Regions from separate parts of the Homo sapiens genome. Here region 1 is linked to region 2. A link means that fine-mapping ties the variant in region 2 to the expression of a gene that starts in the linked region. Tissue or cell type: lung. Region 2 holds a variant in brackets; the other region holds the start of a gene. All regions are shown on one strand. Distances are from middle to middle.

Region 1 (2,500 bases), 71 kb after region 2:
CCCCTAAGGACCTTCTAGCTGTGAGACTCTGCCCACTGCTCTGGACAGAGGAGGAACTAGGGAAAGAAGTGAGACTAGGAAGAATCTTGATGCCAACTGTTTCCCCAGTGTCCAGTGAGCAAACTCCTGACTCCTAAAAGAGGAAGGAATAGACCATTCACTTTCTTTCATCTGCCTAGAACATGGGATCTTTTTTTAAAAAAATAGTTGGGTACATAGTAGGTGTATATATTTATGGGGTACATGAGGTGTTTTGATACAGGCATGTAATGTGAAATAAGCACATCATGGAGAATGGGGTATCCATCCCTTCAGGCACTAATCCTTTGAGTTACAAACAATCCAATTATACTTTTTAAGCTATTTAAAAATATACAATTAAGTTATTATGGACTATAGTCACCCTATTGTGCTGTCAAACAATAGGTCTTATTCATTCTTTCTAGCTATTTTTTTGTACCCATTAACCATCCCTATCCTCCCACTACCCTTCCCTGCTTCTGGTAACCACATGCTTCTACTATGTCCATGAGTTCAACTGTTTTGATTTTTAGATCTCACAAATAAGTAAGAACATGTGACGTTTGCTTCCTGTGCCTGGCTTATTTCATTTAATATAATGATTTCCAGTTCCATCCATGTTGTTGCAAATGACTGGATCTCATTCTTTTTTATGGCTGAATAGTACTCCATTTACATATATGTACCATATTTTCTTTATCCGTTCATCTGTTGATGGACACTTAGGTTGCTTCCAAATCTTAGCTATTGTAAACAGTGCTGCAAGAAAAACACAGGAGTGCAGATAGAACCTGGGATCTTTATTCATGTGGCGAAAATTTATGGTGGTGCCTGCTGGGTGCCTGACAGGGGCTGGAGATGAGTATTCTCCAATTCAGCTCAAGGAACCATTTGTTGAGCATCTACTATGGGCTGGGCTGAAACTTTGGTATCACATTTACTCCCCTCAAAATCATTTTACAAATGCAGAAACACACTCAGGCACAGGTATTATTATAAGAAACTTTTCCAAGGGTACCACCCGGTGAATGCCTGAACTGGTTAATTTCAAAGCCGTGGTCACCTAGCAGAACTTGTCCCCATTCTCCTGGGAGAGCCGGGAGCTGGTGGGGCTCCCCCCTGCCTCCCTCCCGAAGCCCTCCTGTTTTCACAGCTACCTCTCATCCCCTTCTCAGGAAGGCCCAGAGTGCTGGACCCCAGGCTAGGGTGGGCAAGGATGAGGAGTGGGGACAGAGGCTGGCATATGAGGCACGGGAGAGAGGTGGGGAATTACGGGACGCCGCTGCCAGGGCTGCAGTGGGAGGAGGGGTGTGTCCCCTACTTCGGAGGGGCGCTCGGGCTCTGTGGAGAGAGCGCCATGCGGGAGGCGGGCCCGGGGCGCCCTCGCTCGGCGGGCACAGGTGCGCGGGTGCCATGACGACTGCGCCTCACGAGCCCCCTCCTTCCCCTGGTCGGGAGGCGAGGGGCGGCGGGCGGCTGAGCCCTGCGGGCAGCAGCGCTGCGCGGGAGCCAGTCAGCCCGAGGGGAGGGAAACCGGCCAGGGCCCGGGGCCTGGGAGCGCACGCCCCCTGCTCACCTCTGCCCGGACCGACCGGACCTGCGGAGCGCGGAGGCAGGGGCGCAGCCCGCAACCAAGTGCCCGGAGACCGTCCCTCTGCCCGCTGGCCCGAAGGGGCCCGCTGCCTCCCGCCATCGGAGACCGCCGGAGCCCGCAACTGGGGGCATCATGGAGGGTGAGTGGTCCTGGGGCTGGGGGCCAGCCGTGGGGCAGGGTACCGACTCCGGGGCATGGGGCGAAGGGAGAGGAGAGGGCCGGGCAGCTGATCACCCATGGCTGTCCAGAGCCAGACGTTGTGACACTCTGTGTGTGACAGAGACAGAGACACTGAGTGAGGGAGAGAGACCTGGGGTGCCCATGTGTTCATGGTGTGTGTGTGTGTGCGTGTGTATGTGAGACAGAAAAACAGACAGACAGAAAGAGACAGATGGAGAGAAAGACCTGGGGGTGCTCTGTATTCATGTTGTGCCTGTGTGTGTGAAAGAGAGAGAGAGAGAGAGACAGAGACAGAGACATAGAGACAGACACTGAGAGAGGGAGACAGAGACAGGCAGAGAAACACTTGGGGGTGCCTCTGTATTCATGTTGTGCTTGTGTGTGTGTGTGAGAGAGAGAGAGAGAGTGAGAGAGAGAGAGAAAGACCTGGGGTGCCTCTGTATTTGTGTTGTACATATGTGTGTGCATGTACAAGACACACACACACACACACACAAAAAGAGAGAGTCCCTGTTGTGTGTGTGCACGCACACAATCCCTGCTGTCTGAGCAGAGAATCATTTGAGACCAGGTGAGGACAGCTTGGCTATTAGCTTCAGAAGAATTGTCACCGACTTTGTCTGCTTGAAGGGGTGGGGTTGTTGGGGAGATGGGATTCTAGAGGTGATATCCTCCATGTAGAGAGAATTTCTCTCCCTAAGGAAA
Region 2 (2,758 bases):
GGCCTCCCAAAGTGCTGGGATTACAGGTGTGAGCTACTCTGCCCAGCACTACATACAGGTTTTAAAACTTTATTTATTTGTTTTTATTTTTTTGAGACAAAGTCTCAAAAGGTCTGGCTCTGTTGCCCAGGCTGGGGTGCAGTGGCATGATCTTGGCTCACTGCAACCTCTGCCTCCCAAGCTCAAGCGATCCTCCCACCACAGCCTCCCAAGTAGCTAGCTGGGACTACAGGCATGCACTACCACACCCAGCTACTTTTTGTATTTTTTATAGAACCAGGGTTTTACTGTGTTGCCCAGGATGGTCTTGAACTCTTGAACTTAAGTGATCCTCCCACCTTGGCCTCCCAAAGTGCTTGGGTTACGGGCGTGAGCCACCATGCCCAGATTGCATACAGGTTTTTGAAAGAGCTCTTGTCCTCACTTTACTGAAGAAGAAACTGAGATTGGAGTTAAGTAACTTGCCTGAGGTCCCACAGCAAGAAAGAGTTGGCCCAAGAAAGGATTCAATTTGGATTCTGAGAAGAAGATATTGCTTTCTAGGTCTCTTGTGTGGTTAGAAGTTATTCTGACTGAGTATGATAGCCACTGGCTGGAGGGCCTCATGCTCAGCTTTCTTCTCTGAGGCCAACTCTCTGTAGCACATTATTTCCTAGAGAGGCAGGGGCTTCTGCAGCAGGACGTGAGAAGGCACCTCTGAGATGCAGGATTCGTGTGTGCGTTTGTCAGAGGGGTGTCCACACAGCCCTCTGAGCGTGCGGCTGCTCTCCCCAGCAGCTCCCGTGAGCTTTGCCCTGGCAGGACTTTAGCTCTGTTCCCTATGTCCCCATCAACACCCATCTCCACTGATCCAGGTTTTTGGGCGTTTGAGGAAAAACATACCCCAAGGGTCACTGCATGTTGGGGATGTTCCTTTCTTTAAACTGGAGATATTTGTAAGAAGTCATTAAGTGCTTGTAAAACTCTTGCACAATATACAAGTCCATGAAATAGGAAGTGAAAGAAAAAAATCCCCCTAAACCCACTGGCACTTTCAAGTTGAGTGGTTTCCCCACGTCTCAGAAGACGCGCCTTCC[C/T]GAAGTGCCTTTCTGCCCTTCTCTTCCCGACAACCCTCCCGGGCCCAGTAGCTGTGTGTGCTATTGCGGTGGGACTTTCTGGACGTATGTGGTCCTCGGTGAGCTCTTCCTCCCATGCCCTTTTCTCTATAAGGGGCATGAGACAGGAAACAGGCTCAGAAACATTGCTCTAGAGATCGGGAGTAAAACACCCCCAAAGACCTGAAAGTGGTTGTCCCTGGGGGAGGGGATTTGTCAAGAGGGAGCAAGTCCGGCTGCTTTTTGTCTTAAGCCTTTTAGAGCCAGCCAGCTCTGTAAGCACTACAACAAACAGCTTTGTTAAAGTGATGCCTAATTGTGCCCAGTGATGCACGGCACGATCCCTTGATGAGCAGTTGTTTTGCTCGCTGTCTGCATCCTGTGTGTCCCTACTTTGGAAATTGAGTGACATTTCAGAGACTGGCAGCTCAAGTCATGGGGGGCTCCTGTTTGACAGAGGGCTGTCTGAAGAGCCTTTGTTTAGTAGAATCATGGAGTCAGAGGATGTCTGGTCTGGTTGAGACCCCAAATCATCTAGTCCAAACCCTCATTTTACAGATGAGGGGACAAGGCCCATGAAGAAGTAGTGTCTCTGAGCTCCCCCTGGCTGATAGTGGAGGGGCTGGGATAAGAATTAGGCCTCCTGAGTTACAGCCCAGGGCGGCCTCCACACCGAGGGTCACGTGTGCCTCTGAGTACCAGAAGCATGAACAAAGCGAGAGAAGAGAGTGAAGAGACTCTGTCTCTGCTGCTCTGTCCTGAAATAGTCTGCTCAGAGGGGAAGCAGGAGGAACCCAGGGCACAAAAAATTTCCATGAGCGTGTAAACCTCATGCCCTTAGGCAGGCAGGAGCAGCCAGCACTCAGTTACTGTCATTACCACCCCATTATCATCATCAATACAGGAAGCAGCTACATCAGGAGGAGGCCTGGCCCCTCTAGGCCAGTGATGCTTCAGCTAAAACACAGATGCCTGGGCCTTACCCCCAGAGTTTCTGATTCTGTGGGACTGGGGTGGTGCCTGAGAATGTGCCTTTCTGACAAGTTCTGGGGTGATGCTAATGCTGTGGGTGATGCTGATGCCCTTGGAGAACCACTGCACTGGAGTAGCCCTTGCTACTTAGTGTGGTCCTTGGACCTGCTGGGTGGAAATGCAGACTCTTACGCCCCACCTAGACATGTGGCATCAGAATCTGCACGTTGGCAGTGTCCCCAGGTGTCACACTTTAGTTTGAGAGGTGATGGTATGGTGCAGAGTTCACCTGGCTGCACGTTAGAGTCACCCAGGGAGCTTTTACCCTCCCTTCCATTCCCAAGCCCCAGCCCCCACTAATTAAATCAGACTCTCTGGGAGAGAGACTTAGGCATCAAGAGTCTATAGAGCTCCCAAGGTGGCTCCTGGTTGTGGCCAAGTCCTAGAATCCACAGTGGCAGCTGCAAGGGGCCTTGGAGATGATCAGTTGCAATTTACCAAGATTTGAAAACTAAGGGCATAAGGACCCAAGGTCCCACAGACAGTAAGTGACAAATCCAGGCTGTTGATACCCTGATGACTCTTTCACCAGCTCTTTCAACTCTAAGTCCCCTTTTATATAGTTCCATGGGAACTGCAATATACTAGTGTTCCCAGGGAACCCATTGTAAATCATGGAAGATCTATCTGCT

The links. PIP is the estimated chance that this variant, and not a neighbour inherited with it, causes the effect.
Region 1: NPFFR1 starts here. The variant in region 2 is fine-mapped to the expression of NPFFR1 in lung (TOPMed, PIP above 0.99).

Annotation. Positions count from the first base shown.
Region 1 is chr10:70,282,924-70,285,423 of GRCh38, reverse strand. NPFFR1 (neuropeptide FF receptor 1) reads left to right here and starts at 1,420. Exons shown (of 4, transcript NM_022146.5): 1 at 1,420-1,754. The coding sequence starts at 1,748. RefSeq lists an enhancer at 1,712-2,213.
Region 2 is chr10:70,353,861-70,356,618 of GRCh38, reverse strand. All of the region lies in intron 2 of LRRC20 (leucine rich repeat containing 20), which reads left to right. Among named protein-coding and RNA genes, the nearest start is that of LRRC20, 27 kb to the left of the region's middle. RefSeq lists enhancers at 744-953, 1,174-1,273. The variant C/T (reference allele first, on the strand shown) is at 1,077.